7 linked regions of the Homo sapiens genome follow. The protein of the gene in region 1 purifies or fractionates together with the protein of each later gene. This does not show direct contact. Each region holds a gene or a part of one and is shown in the gene's direction. Other genes may lie near its edges.

The links.
Region 2: the proteins of KIR2DL1 (region 1) and FLVCR1 purify together in Homo sapiens (affinity purification with mass spectrometry; one large-scale study listed by BioGRID and IntAct). This does not show direct contact.
Region 3: the proteins of KIR2DL1 (region 1) and RELT purify together in Homo sapiens (affinity purification with mass spectrometry; one large-scale study listed by BioGRID and IntAct). This does not show direct contact.
Region 4: the proteins of KIR2DL1 (region 1) and SLC27A4 purify together in Homo sapiens (affinity purification with mass spectrometry; one large-scale study listed by BioGRID and IntAct). This does not show direct contact.
Region 5: the proteins of KIR2DL1 (region 1) and VANGL1 purify together in Homo sapiens (affinity purification with mass spectrometry; one large-scale study listed by BioGRID and IntAct). This does not show direct contact.
Region 6: the proteins of KIR2DL1 (region 1) and PKP2 purify together in Homo sapiens (affinity purification with mass spectrometry; one large-scale study listed by BioGRID and IntAct). This does not show direct contact.
Region 7: the proteins of KIR2DL1 (region 1) and GOSR1 purify together in Homo sapiens (affinity purification with mass spectrometry; one large-scale study listed by BioGRID and IntAct). This does not show direct contact.

Annotation. Positions count from the first base shown.
Region 1 is NC_000019.10:54,768,422-54,772,592, forward strand, and holds the start of KIR2DL1 (killer cell immunoglobulin-like receptor 2DL1 precursor), read left to right. Parts: upstream 1-1,371; 5' UTR 1,372-1,429; coding exon 1,430-1,463; exon of another isoform or gene 1,464-1,470; intron 1,471-2,248; exon of another isoform or gene 2,249-2,427; coding exon 2,428-2,463; exon of another isoform or gene 2,464-2,516; intron 2,517-2,600; exon of another isoform or gene 2,601-2,643; intron 2,644-4,171. UniProt on the Homo sapiens protein: Receptor on natural killer (NK) cells for some HLA-C alleles such as w4 and w6. Inhibits the activity of NK cells thus preventing cell lysis.
Region 2 is NC_000001.11:212,864,775-212,868,274, forward strand, and holds part of FLVCR1 (choline/ethanolamine transporter FLVCR1), read left to right. Parts: intron 1-3,500.
Region 3 is NC_000011.10:73,389,899-73,393,398, forward strand, and holds part of RELT (tumor necrosis factor receptor superfamily member 19L isoform 1 precursor), read left to right. Parts: exon of another isoform or gene 1-652; coding exon 653-727; intron 728-856; coding exon 857-1,023; intron 1,024-1,245; coding exon 1,246-1,325; intron 1,326-2,312; coding exon 2,313-2,570; exon of another isoform or gene 2,571-3,500. UniProt on the Homo sapiens protein: May play a role in apoptosis. Induces activation of MAPK14/p38 and MAPK8/JNK MAPK cascades, when overexpressed. Involved in dental enamel formation.
Region 4 is NC_000009.12:128,350,527-128,354,026, forward strand, and holds part of SLC27A4 (long-chain fatty acid transport protein 4), read left to right. Parts: coding exon 1-49; intron 50-2,111; coding exon 2,112-2,221; intron 2,222-2,498; coding exon 2,499-2,708; intron 2,709-2,888; coding exon 2,889-3,015; intron 3,016-3,500. UniProt on the Homo sapiens protein: Mediates the levels of long-chain fatty acids (LCFA) in the cell by facilitating their transport across cell membranes. Appears to be the principal fatty acid transporter in small intestinal enterocytes.
Region 5 is NC_000001.11:115,662,470-115,665,969, forward strand, and holds part of VANGL1 (vang-like protein 1), read left to right. Parts: intron 1-1,191; coding exon 1,192-1,799; intron 1,800-3,500.
Region 6 is NC_000012.12:32,790,255-32,793,016, reverse strand, and holds the end of PKP2 (plakophilin-2), read left to right. Parts: intron 1-285; coding exon 286-373; intron 374-524; coding exon 525-593; coding exon of another isoform or gene 594-738; 3' UTR 739-2,262; downstream 2,263-2,762. UniProt on the Homo sapiens protein: A component of desmosome cell-cell junctions which are required for positive regulation of cellular adhesion.
Region 7 is NC_000017.11:30,515,408-30,518,907, forward strand, and holds part of GOSR1 (Golgi SNAP receptor complex member 1), read left to right. Parts: intron 1-3,500. UniProt on the Homo sapiens protein: Involved in transport from the ER to the Golgi apparatus as well as in intra-Golgi transport. It belongs to a super-family of proteins called t-SNAREs or soluble NSF (N-ethylmaleimide-sensitive factor) attachment protein receptor.

The DNA of each region.
Region 1 (4,171 bases):
TAGGTTATTTGCAAACTCTGTGCCATTTCATATAAGAGGCTTGAGCATCTACAGATTTTGGTATCTGAGTGGAGATCTCGAAACCAATCACCCACGAATAGTGAAGGATGACCGTATATGACTTTTATTTCTCAAATTTAAATATAAATCATAAAAAATGTACAACTAGATAAAAACTAAGAAGTGTTTTTATAGTGTGAGTTAGATTTATTTTTTCCTAGGTATAACCCATTGGTTTAATATTATTTATTGAGAAGACATTCTATGCCACCTTAAACCACACGGCAGCCTTTGTCAACTCTAAAGGGACTGTGTGTACACGGATGTACTTTAGACACTGTTTCTGCTAAGGGGCTCTCTGTGTCCACACTCTTGATGATGCTGCACTTTATGTAGCCTTATAGAACCCTTTAAATTTAGTAGCCAGAGCTCTCTAATTTGTTATTATAGGCTATTTGCTTTTTTTTCTTGAGGCGGAGTCTTGCTCTGTCGCCCAGGCTGGACTGCAGTGACACAATCTCAGCTCACTGCAACTTCTGCCTCCCAGGTTCAAGCGATTCTCATGCCTCAGCCTCTTGAGTAGCTGGCGTTACAGGTGCCTGCCACCAGGCACGGCTAATTTTTGGATTTTTAGCAGAGACACGGTTTCACTATATTGGCCAGGCTGCTCTCAAACTCCTTATCTCAGTTGATCCGCCCACCTCGGCTTCCCAACGTGCTGGGGAAACTTGATTTTCTATAGCATTATGTTACTGGATATTTCTGTAAAATTTAAAATGAGGGAGGGAGAGAGACAGACGGAAAACAAACTCCAGAGTTGGGACTCTGGAATCTTGGGTCATGAGACAAATTTTAGATTAAACTACAAAACTCCAGAATTTACAGGTGGGGTTTTTACTGATAAAGTACAATTCTAAGATTGTAAATAATTGCATAATCCTTCCCTGGGAATTTAAATCATTTTAACTGGTTCTGCTGTAATACTAGAAATACAAGCATGAAAAATTCTAATGGTTTATTAGTGACAATGACTCTGAAAACATTAATAATACCTATTAGATATTTTGCATATTACACAGGAAGAAGAGTTTGAATCTCAGATAAAAACAATAGAAATACATGAAAAGTCTTTCATGTTAGCACAGATTTTAGGCATCTCGTGTTCGGGAGGTTGGATCTCAGACGTGTTTTGAGTTGGTCATAGTGAAGGACACTAGGTGTCAAATTCTAGCGAGAACAATTTCCAGGAAGCCGTGTTCCGCTCTTGAGCGAGCACCCACTGGGCCTCATGCAAGGTAGAAAGAGCCTGCGTACGTCACCCTCCCATGATGTGGTCAACATGTAAACTGCATGGGCAGGGCGCCAAATAACATCCTGTGCGCTGCTGAGCTGAGCTCGGTCGCGGCTGCCTGTCTGCTCCGGCAGCACCATGTCGCTCTTGGTCGTCAGCATGGCGTGTGTTGGTGAGTCCTGGAAAGCAATAGAGGGAGGGAGTGAGGGGATGGAGATCTGGGCCCAGAGGTGGAGATATAGGCCTGGAGGTGGAGTTATGGGCCTGGAGTGGAGATCTGGGCCTGGAGTGGATATATGGGCCTAGAGATGGAGTGATGGGCCTAGAAGTGGAGATCTGGGCCCAGAGGTCGAGATATAGGCCTGGAGGTGGAGTGATGGGACTGTAGTGGAGATCTGGGCCTGGAGTGGAGATAGGAACCTGGAGGGGAGATAGGAACCTGGAGGGGAGATATGGGCCTGGAGGTGGAGATATGGGCCTGGAGTGGAGTCATGGGCCTGGAGGTGGAGTTATGGGCCTGCAGTAGAGATATGGGCCTGAAGTGGAGACATGGGCCTGGAGTGGAGATATGGGCCAGGAGTGGAGATATGGGCCTAGAGGTCGATATCTGGGCCTGGAGTGGAGATATGGGCCAGGAGTGGAGATATGGGCCTAGAGGTCGATATCTGGGCCTGGAGAGGAGATATGTGCCTAGGATGGAGATACGGGCCTGGGTGTGGAGATATGGGACTGGAGAGGATATATGGGCCTGGAGTGGAGATATGGGACTGGAGAGGAGATATGGACCTGGAGTGGAGATAAGGGCCTGGATTGGAGATATGGGCCCAGGGTGGAGATCTGAGCCTGGATTGGAGATATGGGCCTGGATTGGCGATATGGGCTTAGGGTGGAAATATCGGCCTGGAGTGGAGATATGGGCCTGGAGTGGAGATATGGGCTTGAGGTGGGGATATGGACCTGGAGGCTGGGTCTCTGCACAGCCGACAGCCCTGTTCTTGGGTGCAGGTAGGCACTGAGGGTGAGTTTACCTTCAGCCCAGGAAGGGCCTGGCTACCAAGACTCACAGCCCAGTGGGGGCAGCAAGGGTGCCCTGGTTTGCCTGCAGATGGGTCATCCATCATGATCTTTCTTTCCAGGGTTCTTCTTGCTGCAGGGGGCCTGGCCACATGAGGGTGAGTCCTTCTCCCAACCTTCGGGTGTCATCTCCCCACATAAGAGGATTTTCCTGAAATGGGAGGGAAGTCCTGTCAGGGAGTCTCTCATAAACTAGGAAGAAGGGACCCTGGGGTGCTGGGCCCACATTTCTGACCTTGCCTCCCTGGCCTTTCATTCCCTTGGCAGAGTCAAGTTCTGTGGGGACCAGGGTTAGACTACGGTGCTCAAAGCTGGGGTGTGTGGTGGGGAAGTGGTAGGAACAGCAGATCCTCTGAGGACAAAGGTGTTACTCACACACTTCAGCGTTTCCATGACGGTAGGGGCTGCAGTGTGGCTGCTGTCATTCTACCAGAAGAGGTGGGAAAACCACAGCCATGGCCCTGACATTCCAATCCTCTGATGGGGACTCAGTTGTTTATTTTCGTTCAGGCATCGGCTGATATTCCATTCTCAAAGGACATGCCCTCCACCCCATGTCTACCCTGTGTTGTTTTATGTGAGTAATCTTACAGTATTAAAATCTAGTAGGAGTCTCTTACTCAGCACTTGCTCAAAGTTCTCAGCTGACACTTTTGTTGTAGGGAGACACCTTGTGTTTGCGGGATGGGTCCTTCCTTTAGCCCTGGGCACCAAGGTGTGATAGCAGCCATAGAAACTTGGAAAGCGAGGAGAATCTTCAGAGCACAGGGAGGGAGGGGCGGCTCCACATCCTCCTCTCTAAGGCGGTGCCTCCTTCTCCCCACGGTGGTCAGGACAAGCCCTTGCTGTCTGCCTGGCCAAGCCCTGTGGTGCCTCCAGGACATGTGATTCTTCAGTGTCATTCTTATCTTGGGTTTAACAACTTCAGTCTGTAAAAGGAAGATGGGGTGCCTGTCCCTGAGCTCTACAACATAATATTCTGGAACAGCCTTTTCATGGGCCCTGTGACCCCAGCACACGCAGGGACCTATACATGTCGGGGTTCACAACCACACTACCCCAGTGGGTGGTCGGCACCCAGCAACCCCCTGGAGATCACGGTCACAGGTCAGAGGGCTCCTGTCTGGGATTCTCCTTGTCCCACCTCCTGAATCCCAGAGCTCCTGGTGGGCGTGTCCTTGCGGGTCCCATCATGCAAGTCCTGACTGTATTTGGGGTAAAGGGGGATTGAATACAGGGAAATGGGTGCTGTGGTGGGAAGAATAATTGTCCCCAGTGATGACTACATTCTAATCCCTGGAGTCTGTGACTATTTATGATATAGGGGAAGGGACTGAAGGAGAAGATGGAGCTCAGGTTGTTGATGAGTTGACCTTGAGATGGGGAGACAGCCTGGACTGTCCTGATGGGCTCAGTGTAGTCACAGGGGTCCACATGAAAGGAGGAGGAAGAGGGGAGTGGGGATTACAGCAGCATAATGGGAGTCTCCATCAGCTTTGAAGGTGGAGGAAGTCCAGGAGCCATGAATGCAGGTGGCCTATAGAGGCTGGAAAAGTCAAGGAACTGATTCTCCTGAGTCTCCAGAGGGAACGAAGCCCTGCAGGTGCCTTGATTTTACCCACGACAAACAGGGTCCGATTTCTGTCTCCAGAATTGGAAGGGGTTAGTGTGCTCTCTCCTGGTGCCATGCTTCTGATAATTTTCTACAGCAGCAACAGGAAACCAACACTGGAACCCAGGTCAAGGACAAGTTAAGAAACAACACAAGGATAGCCAGGCATGGTGGCAGGTGCATGTAATCCTAGC
Region 2 (3,500 bases), on another chromosome or scaffold:
AAAATTCATATTTTGTGATCTCCAGATATAAAATTCTTAGTTTTCAAAGAAATGTATGCTGAAGATTCTAGAGTGTTTGGGTAGAGACTGCCTTGGTAGATGAACTGCAGGATCCAGGTACAGGAAGCTCAGCCCACATACTTAATTTCCCTTAATATAATGAGCAGAATGTTCTCTTGGTAACATATGAAGTATTCAAACATGTGTAATCCACTTGTTGGTTTTGGTTTTCAGTTAGTTATGGAGTGGCATATTTGTGATGTGCAGACTACTAAGAAGGACACATTATTCCTATCCTATTTTAGCAGTTTAGCAAAGTTTTAAAAGAAATTTGTATTCTTAAAAAAAAAACACCAAAATTCTTTTTTTTTTTATTATAAGTTTTAGGGTACATGTGCACAACGTGCAGGTTTGTTACATATGTATACATGTGCCATGTTGGTGTGCTGCACCCATTAACTCGTCATTTACATTAGGTATATCTCCTAATGCTATCCCTCCCCCCACCCCCCATCCCACAATAGGTCCCGGTGTGTGATGTTCCCCTTCCAGTGTCCATGTGTTCTCATTGTTCAGTTCCCACCTATGAGTGAGAGCATGCGGTAAAAACACCACAATTCTTAAGTCTGCTTTTCTGGTAGCCATGTTTGATTTGCTAGATGAAATAGGAAATACATTTTGCATAAATGGACCTTCCATTTGCAATAGGGATTTTTTTTTTTTTTTGAGACAGAGTCTCGCTCTGTCACCCAGGCTGGAGTGCAGTGGCATGATCTCAGCTCACTGAAACCTCTACCTCCCAAGTTCAAGTGATTCTCCTGCCTCAGCCTCCCGAGCAGCTGGGCTTACAGGCATGCACCACCATGCCAGCTAATTTTTGTATTTTCAGTAGAGACAGGGTTTCACCATGTTGGTCAGGTTGGTCTCAAACTCCTGACCTCAAATGATCCACCTGCCTCAACCTCCCAAAGTGCTGGGATTATAGGCATGAGCCACCAGGCCCGGCCAGCAATAGGGATTTTTAAAGTATAGAATTCTCTCTCTTTTTTTTTTTTTATCAAGACGGAGTCTCGCTCTGTCACCCAGGCTGGAGGGCAGTGGCGCTATCTGGACTCACTGCAATCTCTGCCTCCTGGGTTCAAGCAGTTCTCGTGCCTCAGCCTCCCTCCCTGGGATTACAGGCATTTGGCTAATTTTTGGGGTTTGGTTTTTTTTTTTTTTTTTTTTTGAGACAGAGTCTTGCTCTGTCAGCCAGGCTGGAGTGCAGTGGCGCAATTTCGACTCACTGCAACCTCTGCCTCCCACATTCAAGGGATTCTTGTGCCTCAGCCTCCCAAGTAGCTGAGATTACAGGCGCGTGCCACCATGCCTGGCTAATTTTTGTATTTTTAGTAGAGACGGGGTTTCACCATGTTGGCCAGGCTGGTCTCGAACTTCTGACCTCAGGTGATCTGCCCGCCTTGGCCTCCCAAAGTGCTGGAATTACAGGCATGAGCCACCGAGCCCGGCCTTTTTTGTGTGTTTTTAGTAGAGATGGGGTTTCACCATGTTGGCCAGTCTGGTCTCGAACTCCTGACCTCAAATGATCTGCCTGCCTCGGCCTCCCAAAGGGCTGGGATTACTGGTGTGAGCCACTGCACCCGGCCAAAATTCTCTTTCTTTTGATTACTTTTGTGTCTTCACATAAATTCTGATTTTCCTTTTTTTTTTTTTTTAAATCCTCTTCAATTGCTTGTCTCAGAAAGAAGTGAGAAAGTAAGAGATTGCATGTAAGATATCACGAAATCATACATGTGATGTGTGTATGTTTAAACTGCTACAAATAAAAGATCTTTACTTGTTGAAGGAGGGAGACCAAGAATGATAATAATAGGTATGACTATTGGCATATTACCCTTTGTTATTTGAGAAATTAAAAGAGATCTGATTATGTACTTAACTAATTATGTACTCATGGCCTACAGGTAGAGAGTGGAAATAGAAATGAGGGGAAAATAATGGGAAATATGGCATTAAACAAAGGCTCTTTGTCAACTTTTGCTTGGAGGACTCTAATTTTAATTTTATGATCCCAAGCATATTATAAAAGCAAGATAGTATACAGCTGTGATATGAAAGTCTTAAGTTGAAAATTGTGACATTTAAATAGAACACATACTTGTTTTCCTCATTCCCAAATATTTGCTATTGAGCAAACTTTGGATTACTTAAAAAAATCCATACCAAATAAAGTTCCTTAATTACTAAAAGGTGATTTTACTTCTCTCTGAATTCTATCCATACTTACTTTGGAAGTCCCACCACGTCCTCATAAAATAATTTAATTTTGTTGAGATTTTTCCGCAACGTGACATGTACTAAATTGATACTCAGCAGTCTGCTTAAAATATTTTCTCAAAGGTTCATGCCATGTAACTGTTCCTCTCCCTCATGGAGCTTATATTGAGTATAATCCATCTAGTGTTTCCAGGAATTAACCCAAGCATTCCACTGAATTTCACACTAATACCCTATTCCTATTAGGAGAACTCTATTATAGCCTCAAACATTTGGTTTGTTGGTATGTGCCAAACATGTTTGGAGGCTTACTACATGCTGTATCTCATTTAATCCTCATGACTCTGTGAGGAGGGTACCAATATTCCCATTTTATAGACAAGGAAACTGAGGCACAGAATTTAGTTAAATCTAATTTGTCCAAGGTTATAGTAAACACTGAAGGTCAGATTTAAGCCTAGACAATTTAACTCCCTATATAAAAGTTACAGATAAAAAATAACATTTTAATTTTTACTGAGCCTTATTTTTTGTTCGAATTCAGATTCTTGCATAAGTGGTAATGCTGTTGTATTTAAAAGCTGTTCTTGTGCAGCAGAGCAGTAAACTATGTCATTTAACTCATGTGTCAATTAAAATACTTTCCTGATTCACTAAAATGAGTGGATGACAGAAGCCAAAAGTAATCACAATAAAAATATTTAATATTAATATGCTTAAACACATAAGCATATAATGTGTGCATAATTTTACTTTTTTTTTTTTTTTTTGAGATGGAGTCTCGCTCTTTCACCCAGGCAGGAGTACAGTGGCGCGATCTTGGCTCACTGCAAGCTCTGCCTCCCGGGTTCACACCATTCTCCTGCCTCAGCCTCCTGAGTAGCTGGGACTACAGGCACCCACCACCGCGCCCGGCTAATTTTTTGTATTTTTAGTAGAGATGGGGTTTCACCGTGTTAGCCAGGATGGTCTCGATCTCCTGACCTCATGATTCGCCCACCTCAGCCTCTCAAAGTGCTGGGATTACAGGTGTGATAATTTTACTTTTAATTCTTTTTTAAGAGATGGGGTCTCGCCCTGTCACCCAGGCTGGAGTGCAGTGGCACAATCTCAGCTCACTGCACCCTTGATCTCCTGGCCAGCCTTAAGCAATCTTCCTACCTCAGCCCTCTGAGTAGCTGGGACTACAGGTGTGTGCTATCATGCCTGGCTATTTTTTATAT
Region 3 (3,500 bases), on another chromosome or scaffold:
GACAGTTCATTCCTAAGAATGGGAAGCAGAGAGAACTCCTAGTGAAATGGGCTGGGGACACACACTGAGAAGATGGAGCTTTCTTTTGGGATGCGTCTCCCTGTTTGGGTGTGTGGGTGTGAATGGGGTAGCCTCGCCTTGAGGGAAGATTGCAGAGGAGGATGTGGTCCTGGAGACTTTCGCTGAAGGGAGAGCCCAGAATAGGAAGCGCCACCTGCAGACTTGGCTCCAGGGATTATAAATGAGGCTGGTTAATGATATGCCCAGCTGTGATGGGGCCAGGGATGGACCCAAAGTAGGAGGAAGTGGGGGCAGAATACGAGAGAGGATTCGGAAGCATTTCCTCCTCATCGTTCTGGTTAGCTGGAAGGGCTTGAGATCCTGATGTGGCCTTATCTGGGGCTTTCCAGCACTTTCCAGAGCCAGATGTGGCTCTCTCCTTGCCCAGGTACTGGTCTTGCAGCAGGTCTGGGACAGGACAGGTTTTCCTCAGTGTGAGGGATTGAGGTTAGAAGAGTGTGTCCCTGAAGCCCGGGTGGGGTAGTCAGTGGTCCCTACCACTGGGGTTTCAGGAAATAGGTGGGGGATAGATGACCCCAGAGACCCCACACCCAGCACTTTCTGCCTCTTTCAATGCCTACTGTTCTTCTAGCTGCTGCCCTGGCCTCTCGCCACCCTGACATCAACAACCCTTTGGCAGTGCCCACCTGGGGAGGAGCCCGACCTGGTGAGCATTGCCCTGCTCTCCTGCCTGTCCTGGGAGGGCCCTGAGGGCCAGGGGCAGAGTCCTGTGCCTGGCCCCCAAGGGTCCTCAGGCTTGGCTCCTGGCCATGCTCTCACCCTTTACCTCCCACAGGACCCAGGGCAGGGCACATTATGCAGGCCCTGCCCCCCAGGCACCTTCTCAGCTGCATGGGGCTCCAGCCCATGCCAGCCCCATGCCCGTTGCAGCCTTTGGAGGAGGCTGGAGGCCCAGGTGGGCATGGCAACTCGAGATACACTCTGTGGAGACTGCTGGCCTGGGTAAGCCAAAGGGAGTGCGGGGAGGGCTCCTGGCTGGGTGACCAGGACTCTGGATCCTGGGGCCCCAGCCTTATTGTACCCTGAGCAGGCCTCATTCTTCCCATCTGTGAAATGGGATGGGGCAGGACCACGGAGGGTGCCTGGTAGGAAGGAATCCAGCCTCTCCTAAGGATAGTGTTTGGGGAAACTTCTGGGCCTCAGTGGTATCTTCCCTCCTCGCAGGTGGTTTGGGCCTTGGGGGGTTCCCCGCGTTCCATGTCAACCATGTTCCTGGGCACCTCTGGGTACTCATGGCTGTGATGGTGAGTGGCAGACTGGGGCTAGGACTGGTGCAGGGGTATGTGCGGGAGGGGCCAGTGAGTTGGAGCCCAGCAGCCTCTGCAGTGTTCATGTGGGGGCAGTGGGGTCCTTCTTCCAGCCCAGGGCAGGGCGTGCAGCCAAAGGGTCTCCAGCAGGGCACAGTCAGCCGCTCCCCTGGCTGTTTCTGCCCACCATGCTTCCGAGTGGCAGAGAGTGTCCTGCAGATGGCAGCCACAGCTGGGGGCTGGGGACTCACATACTGACCTGTCCCCTGTCCCCATCCCTTCAAAGAGATTCATGCCAGCCAAGTGCAGTGGCTCATGCCTGTAATCTCAGCACTTTGGGAGGCCAAGGCAGGAGGATCACTTTGAGACCAGCTTGGGCAACATAGCAAGACCCTGTCTGCAAAAAATAAAAATAAAAAATTAGCCGGGCGTGGTGGTGCTACTCGGGAGGCTGAGGCGGGAGGATTGCTTGAGTCCATGATTTTCATGCTGCAGTGAGCTGTGATCGCCCCACTGCACTCCAGCCTGGGCAACAAGTGAGACCCTGCCTAAAAAAACCCATGCAGATGAGTGTGCGCATGCAAACACTCACATACCCACACGCACCTCCTCCCGCCACTGAGTCAGTCACCCCCTGAGGCACTAGATTCATGGCCAGGCCACAGGGAGGCAGATCCCACGTCCCTGTGCCCAGACATGTGTCCTGTGTGCCATCTCTTCACCCCCTGACCCCAGCGTGAGGGGAGGGTGGGGCTGGGTGTCTGGCCGTCCTGAGGAGGCCTTGTTCAGGACAATGCTTCGATGGCCAGAAGGGAAAACAGGAGGGCAGTGGGTTGACCTTTGCATCCCCAGCATGGCGGGGAGTGGGCTCCCCTGGGCACATTGGCTCTCCTGCAGCCCCCACTGACTCGGGCCCTGGGCCCCTGTCTCTCTGTGTTTGTGTCACTCTGCTTTTGTCCTGCCTCCATCGTCTGTGATGCTCAGAGTGGGGGCGGCGGGCCCGACGTGGCGTGGAGGTGGCAGCAGGGGCCAGCAGCGGTGGTGAGACACGGCAGCCTGGGAACGGCACCCGGGCAGGTGGCCCAGAGGAGACAGCCGCCCAGTACGCGGTCATCGCCATCGTCCCTGTCTTCTGCCTCATGGGGCTGTTGGGCATCCTGGTGTGCAACCTCCTCAAGCGGAAGGGCTACCACTGCACGGCGCACAAGGAGGTCGGGCCCGGCCCTGGAGGTGGAGGCAGTGGTGAGGCCCAGCTGGGGTCCAGGTGGGAAGGACGGGGGCACGAGCCCAGCCCCAGCTCCACTTGGGGGCTGCCAGCGGAATCCTGCCTGGCCTCTGGGGTCTGAGAGGGAGAGGCTTGGGAGGTGATAGCTGCAGACTGACAACATGGGAGGAAAGGTAAGGGGACGAAGGTGTGGCCGTGGGGGCAGAGCAGAGGTGGCACAGCTGGTCAAGTGGCTTCAGTGGATCCTACCCTGGGTGAAGCCTTGCCCAGATGTGGGGATCTGGACTCTTTGGAGGCCACAGTTGTGTGTATGGTTCCAGGGTCGGATGGTGGCCTTGGAGTTACTCAAGGTGACCTCTGACCTCTGGCCTGGAGTAGCAGGAGTGCCCTGTGGCAGGAGGGCTGGCAGGGCAGCTGTCCTGTCCTGGGCAGGCACCATAAGGGGCTCGGGTTTTGGTTCCAGGCTGTAGTTTGAGTTACAAGGCCTGGAACCGGAGGGACAGGCATGCGCCACCACCTTCACCCCCAGGGCCCCGGGCCCCTTTCCTTCTTCCCCACACCACTACTCCCCTGCAGGGCAGGGGCCCACTCGCACACACCCTGCCCTGGGCCCATGGGAGCCTGTGGCTACCTCAAGAGTGAAATGGCATCTCCCATGCTAGCACCCTCGGCTGTCTGGGGCTGGCATGGGAGCCAGAGACCCTTCTAAGTCCTGACACTGAAGTCTGGCGGGGGCAGGAAGCGGACAGGAGCAGTAAGCCGGCAGGAGGAAACGTGGTGACTCAGGGCCATTTTGCCTGGGACTGTGCTTGTTTTCCTAGAGACTTCCCTTTAACTGCTGGATGCTGCCTGGGTGCAAGTCCTGGGAGCTCTGTTTGCTGCTGGGCCCAGGGCTGATCATCGTGGCCCATTCTCACACCCTTGAGATTTGGGCCCAAAGCTGACTA
Region 4 (3,500 bases), on another chromosome or scaffold:
CGGCCCAACGACATCGTCTATGACTGCCTCCCCCTCTACCACTCAGCAGGTAACTCTAGGGCTGTCACACAGCCTCCAGCACCTGCCAGGTCTCTAGGAACCCCACCCCCATCAGGCAGTGTGCTGCAGTAGAAACACACAGCTTTGGGCCAGGCGCAGTGACTCACACCTGTAATCCCAGCACTTTGGGAGGCCAAGGTGGGCGGATCACTTGAGGCCAGGAGTTCGAGACCAGCCTGGCCAACATGGCAAAACCCCATCTCTACTAAAAATACAAAAATTAGGCTGGGTGTGGTGGCTCACACCTGTAATCCCAGCACTTTGAGAGGCCAAGGTGGGCGGATCACTTGAGGCCAGGAGTTCGAGACCATCCTGGCTAACACGGTGAAACCCCGTCTCTACTAAAAGTACAAAAAATTAGCCAGGTGTGGTGGCTCATGCCTGTAGGCCCAGCTACTCGGGAGGGTGAGGCAGGAGAATGGCGTGAACCCGGGAGGTGGAGCTTGCAGTGAGCCAAGATCGTGCCACTGCACTCCAGCCTGGGCAACAGTACAAGACTCTGTCTCGGAAAAAAAAAAAAGAAAGAAATTATCTGGGTGTGGTGGCGTGTGCCTGTAGTCCCAGCTATCTGTGAGGCTGAGGCACGAGAATTGCTTGAACCTGGGAGGCAAAGGTTGCAGTGAGCTGAGATCACGCCACTGCATTCCAGCCTGGGCAACAGAGCGAGACACTGTCTCAAAAAAAAAAAAAATTAGCTGGGTCTGGTGGCGTGTGCCTGTAATCCCAGCTACCTGTGAGGCTGAGGCATGAGAATTGCTTGAACCTGGGAGGCAAAGGTTGCAGTGAGCTGAGATCACGCCACTGCACTCCAGCCTGGGCAACAGAGCGAGACACTGTCTCAAAAAAAATAAAAATAGGCTGGGCGCAGTGGCTCACGCCTGTAATCCCAACACTTTGGGAGGTGAGTGGATCACGAGGTCAGGAGTTCGAGACCAGCCTGGTTAACATGGTGAAACCCTGTCTCTACTAAAAGTACAAAAAGTAGCTGGGCTTGGTGGCGGGTGCCTGTAATCCCAGCTACCCAGGAGGCTGAGGCAGGAGAATGGTTTGAACCCAGGAGGCAAAGGTTGCAGTGAGCCTAGATCGTGCCATTGCACATCAGCCTGGGTGACAGGGCAAGACTCTGTCTCAAAATAAATAAATAAATTAATTTAATTTAATTTAAAAATAAAAATAAACAGGATTAGCCAGGCGTGGTGCACATGCCTATGGTCTCAGCTACTGGGAAGGCTGAGACAGGAGAATCACTTGAGCCTGGGAGTTTAAGGCCAGCCTGGGCAACATGGTGAGACCTGTCTCTAAAAAAAATTTTGTTTTAGGCCAGGTGTGGTGGCTCACGCCTGTAATCCCAACACTTTGGGAGGCCGAGGCGGGCGGATCACGAGGTCAGGAGATCAAGACCATCCTGGCTAACACGATGAAACCCCATCTCTACTAAAAATACAAAAAAAAAAAAAAATTAGCCGGGCGTGGTGGCGGGCGCCTGTAGTCCCAGCTACTCGGGAGGATGATGCAGGAGAATGGCATGAACCCGGAAGGCGGAGCTTGCAGTGAGCCGAGATGGCATCACTGTACTCCAGGCTGGGCGACAGAGCGAGACTCCGTCTCAAAAAAAAAAAAAAAAGTTGTTTTAAATTGAAAAAAGGATGAGCACACCAGCCTCACAGTGTGTGTGGCAGTGTCCCACGGGGCATCTGGGCCTGTCTCATTTCAGTTTGTTTCCACAGATATGCATGGCATTGCTGCTTGTTTGTAGGGGCTTAAGGGAAGACAGCTTGAATAAATATAGCTCCTGCCCTCCAGGTGCTTAGAGTCGGGTGTATATGTGAGTGTAGGAGAGAGGCAGGGAGCAAGAGGGCAGCACCAGGGAAGAGCCTGGTGATGGAAGCCGGGGAGGCTTCTTGGAGGAGGTCACCCAAGGCAGGCAGATGTGAGGTGCAGAAGCCTGCAGGGCAGCACAAGCCTGCCTGGCTGGATGGCAGTATCACTGATTTGGGGCCGGGGAGGGTCTTCATCTCGCTGACCCTCAGGGGCCATCCCTCTGCCTCCAGGAAACATCGTGGGAATCGGCCAGTGCCTGCTGCATGGCATGACGGTGGTGATTCGGAAGAAGTTCTCAGCCTCCCGGTTCTGGGACGATTGTATCAAGTACAACTGCACGGTGAGCGAGAGCGGGAAGGGTGAGCTGTCCCTTTCCCCTAGTTACCCTCTTCCCAACTACACTCCGGGGCATCTGTCTTATAGCTGAGGTGGCCAGTCATTCCAAAGGGCTCATTTGTGGCAAAGTTCCCATTGTTCAGATGGGAAGGCTGAGACCCGGAGAGGGAAAGGATGGCATGGCCAGCCCCTGGGGAGAGTAGGGGCTTGAGGGATCAGGAGAATCCTAGTGTAGTGAGGGCAGCCTCTGGAGCCTCGAATCACACCAAGTTCACCCCCAGATTGTGCAGTACATTGGTGAACTGTGCCGCTACCTCCTGAACCAGCCACCGCGGGAGGCAGAAAACCAGCACCAGGTTCGCATGGCACTAGGCAATGGCCTCCGGCAGTCCATCTGGACCAACTTTTCCAGCCGCTTCCACATACCCCAGGTGGCTGAGTTCTACGGGGCCACAGAGTGCAACTGTAGCCTGGGCAACTTCGACAGCCAGGTGCGGCCAGGTTGGGGATGGGCGAGGCTGCTGCAGGGATGGCCCACAGAAGGCACTGGATGCAGAGGGGAGGGCAGAGTTCGAGCGTGAGAGTGTGGGTGCTGGAGTCCCACTTCCCCCTCATTGTCCAGTTTTGGGCCCATGGTGAGAGAGCCCAGGCCCAAGTCTTGGCCTTCGCAGGTGGGGGCCTGTGGTTTCAATAGCCGCATCCTGTCCTTCGTGTACCCCATCCGGTTGGTACGTGTCAACGAGGACACCATGGAGCTGATCCGGGGGCCCGACGGCGTCTGCATTCCCTGCCAGCCAGGTCTGCCACTTCGGGGTCAGAGAGGGAGGGGTTGGCCTGGGAAGGAAGGAGGCCAGGCGCGTGTGGATGGGGAGCCTTGTTCTGACCAGTGGCCATCAGTTATCTCTGCTCTTAGGGTTACAAGTTACTCATTTATTTGTGTATCCATCCATTCATTCATTCATTCGCCATTCTATCTGTACATCAGTCCATTCATTCATTCTTTTTTTTTTTTTTATTTGAGACGGAGTCTCGCTCTGTCGCCCAGGCTGGAGTGCAGTGGCGGGATCTCGGCTCACTGCAAGCTCCGCCTCCCGGGTTCACGCCATTCTCCTGCCTCAGCCTCCCAAGTAGCTGGGACTACAGGCGCCCGCCACTACGCCCGGCTAATTTTTTGTATTTTTAGTAGAGACGGGGTTTCACCGTTTTAGCCGGGATGGTCTCGATCTCCTGACCTCGTGATCCGCCCGCCTCGGCCTCCCAAAGTGCTGGGATTACAGGCGTGA
Region 5 (3,500 bases), on another chromosome or scaffold:
TTTAAACAACAAAATCCTTTAAAATTCTATCAACTGGGTTTTGCTAAGTGAATAGACTAATTGCTTTAACTAGCAACGGCCTAGAAGTTTAAAAAGAGAGGAAGCTAGAAAGTAAAAGATAACATTTTAATAATCCTGGTTGTTTCTATGCCCTTGATGTTTAGTTCCTCGTGAAAACATGTTTTAGAAAGAATTTTTAAGCCAATCTGGCCATACACGGATTCCTGGATTTGCTTAGCTTGGTCCATGAGAAATATTGTTAAAGAGTGCTTGACACTGATGCTTGTTAAGTGGATCTTGTGAACATCATAAGGAGATTTTTTTTTTTTTTTTTTGAGACGGAGTCTCACTCTGTAGCCCAGGCTGGAGTACAGTGGCACGATCTCAGCTCACTGCAACCTCCGACTCCCGGGTTCAAGCGATTCTCCTGCCTCAGCCTCCTGAGTAGCTGGGATTACAGGCATGTGCCACCACGCCTTGCTAATTTTTGTATTTTTAGTAGAGACGGGGTTTCACCATGTTGGCCAGGATGTTCTTGATCTCCTGACCTCCTGATCCGTCCGCCTCGGCCTTCCAAAGTACGGGGATTACAGGTGTGAGCCACCGCGCCCCAGTCCATAAAGAGATTTTAAAATGTGGGTCCTAGCTACAGGTAAGCTTGGGTTTGTGTAGTGGTGTAAGTTCCCTTGCTACGCCCTTTGCTCTTCTGGGCTGCTAGAGGGTGTAGTAATACTCCCACCTCCAAAAGTTGGACTTCGTAAGCCTTTATAACCCAGCGTGAATTGGAAAGAAGATGCAGGAGGTTTATCTCTATAGATGAGCTCTCACAAGATTAGTCTAATACCTGGGTTGCGCATTGCAGGGCAAACAGCTCCAGGCCCTCAGAGCTGCTCAAGGCTTTTCAACCCAGGGGATGATAATCAATGTTATGTCAATGAATCAGCCAAACAGACAGAAAGATCACATTATGTTTTCTCTGTTTGAAAAGGTAAATACCTCATACATTTTGAAAATTTCAATGAAAATCGTTTGAGTTAAGAAGTTCTAATATTTAAAGAGTTAAGCTTTCATTTTCTGGAAGCCTTTGTGAATAGGGCTGGGTAGATGCAGCGGGCCCTGCATGTTCACTGCCCTTTGTAGCTTTTACAAATGACCTGTGTCATGTCATCCTCACTGTCTTCTCCCCACCAGGATGACAACTGGGGAGAGACCACCACGGCCATCACAGGCACCTCGGAGCACAGCATATCCCAAGAGGACATTGCCAGGATCAGCAAGGACATGGAGGACAGCGTGGGGCTGGATTGCAAACGCTACCTGGGCCTCACCGTCGCCTCTTTTCTTGGACTTCTAGTTTTCCTCACCCCTATTGCCTTCATCCTTTTACCTCCGATCCTGTGGAGGGATGAGCTGGAGCCTTGTGGCACAATTTGTGAGGGGCTCTTTATCTCCATGGCATTCAAACTCCTCATTCTGCTCATAGGGACCTGGGCACTTTTTTTCCGCAAGCGGAGAGCTGACATGCCACGGGTGTTTGTGTTTCGTGCCCTTTTGTTGGTCCTCATCTTTCTCTTTGTGGTTTCCTATTGGCTTTTTTACGGGGTCCGCATTTTGGACTCTCGGGACCGGAATTACCAGGGCATTGTGCAATATGCAGTCTCCCTTGTGGATGCCCTCCTCTTCATCCATTACCTGGCCATCGTCCTGCTGGAGCTCAGGCAGCTGCAGCCCATGTTCACGCTGCAGGTGGTCCGCTCCACCGATGGCGAGTCCCGCTTCTACAGCCTGGGACACCTGAGGTAAGAGGCAACATCCAGGAGGCAGAAAGGATGGCTGATGTCTTGCTGGGAGACAGCTGCTCTGTAGCACGTGAGGGGTGGTGACAGATGCCAAGAGCTAGGACCAGAGTCTGACTCTTTTCTGGTTTGGGGAGGAGATGCGAGGGTGGGGAGGGTGTCCATGTTCATTGAGTTTCTGGACTTCTAGATGGTGCGGGGCAGTTGCTGGCTCTCACCCAGGTTGAGATTTTGCTGGGCTTGTTCTCAAAGTTATTGGCAGCTCCCAAAAATGATGGAGAAAGGAGATGCATAGTGATGGCTGCCTTCTTTGACTCTGAAATTGGCCAATGGACAACAGATAAAGTGACCAGCAGCTCCATTTTGTCCCAAATGTGACATCTGGTTTACCATGTTGTCCCAGTGGAATAATGAATTGTTCCTTTTTTCCCACTCTCAGAGGCCTGGTTTGGGCAGTAAATTATATGGTCATCCGAGGGACCCTCCAATAAAGAATCAAGTGCAGGTTAGAGACTCCAAATGTGTAATCCTTGAGTGTTGTGAAAATGTATGCGTGAGAAAAAGTTAGAAGTCAGTTGGGTTGTCATACTTACATCTCTGCATAAAATCTCATTATTTTGTGGTTAAATAAGAGTGATTACCATCATTTTATTTGCTTCAAGGTAAGCACTTTATATATAGATTGTGTATTTAGTCTTCATAGAACCCCGTGACCTAGGTATTATTAATCCCTGTGTCACAGATGAAGAAACTAGGGCTTAGGGGATTTAAGTAATTTGCACAAAAACATATGGCTAGCCTCATTTAGGATTCACTCAGATGTCATGAGGCCAGGGCTGAGTGAATGCCCCCATAATGGCATCTCTCACTTTGTGGTTAGTGGCCTATTTTTCCATCTGTTTTCTTCCACAGACTATGAACTCCCTGAGGCCAGGGGCCACCCTTATACCTCATTACATCCTCAGTGCCTGGCATGGAGCATGGCTTGCACTGAGATGTTCTCTGGGTGAATGCAGAGCCTGGGACATTTGACTTCAAAGCCTTTACCCTCTCCCAGGCTCTCTGCCTCCTTAGGCAGTATATGCTGATGTGTGTAGCCTGCTTGGGGCAGGGTAGGCACTTAGTTCATTGCAGCTATTACTGCTGTGATCATGTAGCTGGCAGAGCAGCCAGAATCAGCAAGGGCACACCTTAGTGGGTATCAGAACAATCGGCTTTGTCATAGATTTGGCTGGGCTCCAGGAAGGTGGCTCAGCCTGTATTTGGAGTCAGGCCATGCTGCCAAACCATCTTCATGTTGGTGTGTACCCTCCTCCATTCCTCTGGCTTGGCTTGTGCTACGAGAACGGGATGATCTAGCGTTCAAGGTTGCTGCCACCCTAACTGATCCTTGGTGGAAACTGGTGTCCAAGTCACATGTCTGTGCACCAAAAATCTGGGGTTTAGAGTCCTTCACAGATGCCTGTAGGGCTCTGAAGACAAGTAGGTCACCGCTTTGCTGCATATTCATCTCAGAAGGCTTTCTTTTCCCATGTTTTGCATCAGGGAATGACCAGCAGTTTTGTGTTAAACATCTGCTGTGTGCAGAGCCCTGGACACACCAGGCTGGCTGCCTTCAGAGCTCTATCTCAGCACCTGTGGCACTCACAGTCACTTGGAAAGAGACCAGTGCACCGCTGTCTGGTGGACAGGTGCAGAAACAGG
Region 6 (2,762 bases), on another chromosome or scaffold:
GCCTCCCAAAAGTGCTGGGATTACAGGCGTGAGCCACCCCACCTGGCCTATAAACTATTTATTTATTAGCACTGTGCTAGTGGTTTAAAAAGAAAACAAAAACAGATATGGTCCCCGCCTTGCAGAGCTTGCTGCCTAATTGTCTGGTCACCGAGTGGCCTGACTTCATGGATGGCTGCTGCGGAGTAGCAGTTGAGGAGCGAAGAGGTCTTACAGAACACCCACAGGCCGCATCCAGAAGCCTCACTCATTCTCCCTGATCTCAGAATGTCCTTTTCTTTTCAGCTATGCCTCCAACAAAGCAAGTAAAGCTGCTTCCGTCCTTCTGTATTCTCTGTGGGCACACACGGAACTGCATCATGCCTACAAGAAGGTAAGAACATGAACAAGGAATGTGTCATAGTTAACAGAGCCAGGTAATAATGGCCCACTTGACTTGACCCTGGGAAGAAATCGCTAAAAAACTGCATTTTCTTGTGTGCCAGTTTTGTTACCTTTCACGTTTCTGTTTGCTTATTCCAAAGGCTCAGTTTAAGAAGACAGATTTTGTCAACAGCCGGACTGCCAAAGCCTACCACTCCCTTAAAGACTGAGGAAAATGACAAAGTATTCTCGGCTGCAAAAATCCCCAAAGGAAAACACCTATTTTTCTACTACCCAGCCCAAGAAACCTCAAAAGCATGCCTTGTTTCTATCCTTCTCTATTTCCGTGGTCCCCTGAATCCAGAAAACAAATAGAACATAATTTTATGAGTCTTCCAGAAGACCTTTGCAAGTTTGCCACCAGTAGATACCGGCCACAGGCTCGACAAATAGTGGTCTTTGTTATTAGGGCTTATGGTACATGGCTTCCTGGAATCAAAATGTGAATTCATGTGGAAGGGACATTAATCCAATAAATAAGGAAAGAAGCTGTTGCATTACTGGGATTTTAAAAGTTTGATTTACATTTATATTCCTTTTCTGGTTCCCATGTTTTGTCACTCATGTGCACATTGCTTCGCCATTGGGCCTCCAGTGTATTGTTCTGCAGTGTTGAAACAGAATGGAAATGACAAGAAATATCTGCAGTTATCCAGGAGAAAGTATAATGGCAAAATTATTGGTTTCTTTCTTTACTTTGTGCTTGTTTTTATCCCCTTGGGTTGTTTTTCTCTGATTTTTAAATAAACTTAAGAAATTTAGATTACAGAGTATGCATGACTGTAAGAAAAAGAAATTGAGAGGAAGTGATCATAGCAAATTAAAGAAGTCTTTTCCTCCCAGAACTTAAAGTAAAATAAAAAATAAATAAATAAATAAAATCTTTTCCACAGAGAAAGGCAACTGTGATGATAAAATTTAACGTTCCCCCAAACACTGAGTCAATGAGATTTTTCTCAGGAGATACTTTACCTATAACAACGCCGTTAAATCCAAATCTCTTCTAAACGATGGCATTCTATGTAATGCCTTTCCTGGACTTTTTTGGCCACTGCCCTGGACTAGTGAAAGAATGGACTCTATCTTTATCTGCAAGAGGAACTAAGGCCTTCTCTCAGACTGCCTGGCCAGCCTGGGGCACTGAAAATACGGCTCATGTTAATGAGTTACATTATCAGCCAGCCCAGCCTTGCCCACCATTTAAGAAATATCACAGAGCCACTAGATCTCATATGATCTTCTTCAAGCCATTATTTTAACTCAAGAAAACTCTAGAGAAGAAAAGTGAAGAAGTCATGTTGAAGAAGATGTAAGAATGTGTCAAGACCATCCAGAAATGATATGAGAAATACTGATATTTTAAATGGTTGACATCATCCAGCGAAATGAATCTACATTAAATGTTGTTTTAACTGCGCTATGATTAAAACCATTCATATAGAGTTAGTCTTTACAACTACTATTCTGTTATTTTTTTTTTTAATCTGACAACATTTGTCCTAAGTAAGATAAGCAAAAAAATTCTTCAACTCCTTTTGGCAAGAAAACTGTAACAGAAAATAAATTTTGAATGTGTACTTAAGTCTTTATTATATTTGAAGCAATTTTTTTTCAATTTTAAAAGCTGAATGAAGACAACTTAGGTTGCTAACCTAGTTCAAAATGAAATTATTTAGATACCAATTTTTAAAATACTGGAGAGAATTTATATGTCTTTTTCCAGAGTTCTGATGATAAGCATTTGGAGTGCATTTATTCCTCCAGATAATAAATGTGTGTTCAGAACTTTTTGTGTTTTTTAAGGCATTAATAAAGCCTTCGATAATATTAAATACAAAATGAGACCAAAGTAGTGTTGCTTGCATTGGCGTCTGTGTATATCTGGTTTATTTGTGTATCTTGGAATATATGGTATGATTGACATAAAATTTGAGGATTTAACCTTATAAACTTCAATTACTAAGGGTTTGATACTTTGTAATTAGTTATATTTTCCCCTTAATTAAAATCCTAAATTTTTACCAAGAGACATTTCCTGTGAGAATGGTGGGACTAGATGGTGACCTGACCATAAAAATGAAGACACATGCAGACGTGTTAGCTGCGGTTAGATTTTAGTATATTATTGGGTGATTCTGTGACTGTGAAAAGACAGACTACGTTTGATTTCCATGTGCTGCTTTGTTCACTCTGTTTGCAAACACCTCACTACTTTACAATTTGTGAACACCTCTCAGGGAGGTTCTTCTGTGAATGAACAGTTTTGATCACAGGTCTATACATAAATGTGTTTGTTTTCCTATGTGTCCCAGACAGGGCCCATGCCTTCAGAGAAACTA
Region 7 (3,500 bases), on another chromosome or scaffold:
TGTTAGGCCTCACCATGCGTGATCAGGCGGACCTGGCTGTTTCACTGGGGACTTCAAATTGCCAGACCTCTATGTCTCTTCTCCTGAGCTAGGTCTTCTACTGGACTAGGGGCAGCCACCTAGCTGCATGCGTTAGGAAGGGCAATTTTGGGTTATGGCAACTCCTTGTACAAATTTCTACAAATCTCCATTTTTAACCCTACTCCACAGTTCTGCCCTCAGAGAGAGTGATCCCTTCCATTCTTGAGCATTTCTGAGATCTGTGGAAAACTTTTTAAAATCATTGCTTGACTCATAATTTTATTGAGGTGCATCACAGTGGTGGATTTGGAGCTGCTAATGTATTTTTTTGTTTGTTTTAGTTTTACCCAGTTACATTTCTTTATTCTGAAATGTCATTTCAAAAGACCAGACCATAATATCTCCACATGAACAGATATTTTTCTAGAATAGGCCTAAAAGTATTGGGAAGATGGGATTGTCAGCATTAAAACACATAGGAAATCAGGACCCTGGAAGAACTGTAATATTCTCTAGGACTTTTCATTTTCTAAATTTGCAGATATTGCCTGTGATTTCAGTTGAAAGTGATCCAAATCCTAGTGTGTCCATGTTAATTGTGTGTGTAGCTTCAAATGTTATTTAACGTTTCTTAATCAAGTGGAATTTTTCTAATGTTTTCATTTTTCTTTTATTAGACACTTGTATATTGTATATTATACAAGTACAGTGTTCTTATTGTAACAACTTAAATAATACTAAAACGGATAAAGAAAAAGTCAGCCGGGCGCGGTGGCTCACGCCTGTAATCCCAGCACTTTGGGAGGCTGAGGCGGGCGGATCACGAGGGCAGGAGTTCGAGACCATCCTGGCTAACACGGTGAAACCCCGTCTCTACTAAAAATACAAAAAATTAGCTGGGCGTGGTGGCAGGCGCCTGTAGTCCCAGCTACTCAGGAGGCTGAGGCAGGAGAATGGCATGAACCTGGGAGGCGGAGGTTGCAGTGAGCCAAGATCGCGCCACTGCACTCCAGCCTGGGTGACAGAGCAAGACTCCGTCTCAAACAAAAAAAAAGAAAAAGAAAAAGTCAGTCTCCTGGTAGTACCCCTCCATTCTTAACCCCTGAAGCAACTTGTGTTAACTGACAGTTGTGTATCCTTCTGATACCTTTTTCACTGTCATACAGACATCCCCAAAGATGTTTGTTTCTGTAATTATTAGAGGATTCATATTCTATACATTCTGTGGCTTGCTTTAATCACTCAATATGTTATAAACATCCCTTCAAGTTAATAGAAATACTAACTTTGTTTTGTTTTGTTTGAGACTGCGTCTTGTGTTGTCACCCAAGCTGGAGTGCAGTGGCGCGATCTCAGCTCACTGCAACCTCTGTCTCCTGGGCTTCAAGTGATTCTTCACCCTCAGCCTCCCAGTAGCTGGGATTACAGGCGCTCACCACCACGCCTGGCTAATTTTTGTATTTTTAGTAGAGAAGAGGTTTCACCATGTTGGCCAGGCTGGTCTTGAACTCCTTGGCCTCAAGTGATCCACCTGCCTTGGCTTCCCAAAGTGCTGGGATTACAGGCATGAGCCACCGCGCCTAGCCCTAACTCATTTTTTTAAATACCCAAATACTATGTAATCACTGCCTGTGATTTCAGTTGAAAGTGATCTAAATCCTAGCATGTCCATGTTAATTTTGTGTGTGTGTGTAGCTTCAGATGTTGTTAACATTTCTTAATCACTCAGGTGGGATTTTTCTAATGTTCTTTTCATTTTTCTTTATTAGATATTTATATATTATCGAAGTACATTTGTATATTATCAAAATGTTCTTATTGTAACAACTTAACTAATACTAAAATGGATAAAGGAAAAGTCAATCTCCTGGTAGTACCCCTCCATTCTTAACCTCTGAAGTAACTTGTGTTAAGTGACAATTGTGTATCTTACTGATATACAACTTTTTCACTGTCATACAAACATCCCCAAGGGTGTTTGTTTCTGAAAATATTACAGCATTGATATTCTGCACATTCCGTAGCTTGCTTTAATCACTCAATATGTTATAAACACCCCTTCGTGTTAATAGAAATAATACTAACTCATCCTTTTTAATAACCAAAGTATGGTTATATCATAATCTATTATACCATTCAAATGTTACTTCCAGTTTTGGGGGATTTTTTTTTTTTGGTCTTTTTGCTGTTGTTGTTCATTTTTTACTATTCCAAAAATGCTTCAACAAATATTCTTTTACAGATTGAATGTTGCTTATCCAAAATACTTGGGACCAGAAGTCTTGGGGATTTCTGATTTTCAGATTAGGGATGTTCAACCTGTATATACCTCCTTACACACTTTTGTTTCTCTTTTGCCATCTCAAATCTTGAAATTCAAGTTTTGATTCATGTGTCATTTGTTTAGAATATTCCTTCTAGCATTTCCCTTCAATAAGATACATGGTGGTTTACTCTGTGAGACCTTACCTGGCCAAAAATGTGTTCACTCAGCTCCCAGATAGATCCAGCTATGAGAGCCTCTTAAGCAATGGCATATCAGGCAGTGATGCATCCATCACTGGGCTCTTCCCTTAGGGGCTGGGCATCACACCAGCTACAAGACTATCGGCTCTCTGCTTGTCATCTTTCTGGCTGCATGTAGCAGTCCTTTCCCAGCTTCAGTGCCTGGGAGCAATTTCACTGCAACCCCTGTGTATGCAGATCCATAGTCTTCCACTGTCTGGGTTCCTCAGGAAGCAAGGAAGCCCTAGGTCTTTGCCTCAAGCTTGAAGAAAAATCTAAGCTTCCCTGCTGTCAGTTCCCTGGTTCTCTCTTCACTTCAGAGAGTATAGCCCTCTACCTGGCTTTCTTCCCTGGAGATCTCAAGGGAACTTGGGGCCTCAGATGGACCCTCCTTAGTGTGTCTGCTTTTATTCTTGTGCTACTCCATGGAGGAAATGGACCAAAGGTCAAGTCAGGAATTTATACTCTCACCATCATCTTCCCCAAATCTCAATCTCTTGATTTAAAAAAAAAAAAAAATAGATATTTTCAAAATTGCTCAACAGCATTTCATTTTCTGTTGCTATTTATAATGTCAACATGCAAAGCACTCCTCTGAGTGTTACATATCAAAGTGGATACTGACCCTGCCCTCTAGGGCTCTAATGTCCAGAGAGATAAGACTATGGGAAATGAATAATCCTGGAAGTGATAGCAAAATGATACTAACTTAGGGCCAAGCTTGGTGGCTCACACCTATAACTCCAGCACTTTGGGAGGCGGAGGTAGGAGGATGGCTTGAGCCCAGGAGTTTGAGACCAGCCTGGGCAACATAGGGAGACCCCATCTCTAGAAATAATTTAAAAATTAGAAAAAAAAAATTAGCCAGGCATGATGGCACATGCCTGTAGTCCCAGCTACTCAGGAGGCTGAGGTGGGAGGATTGCTTGAGCCCAGGGAGTCAAGGCTGCAATAGCCACAGTCACACCACTGGG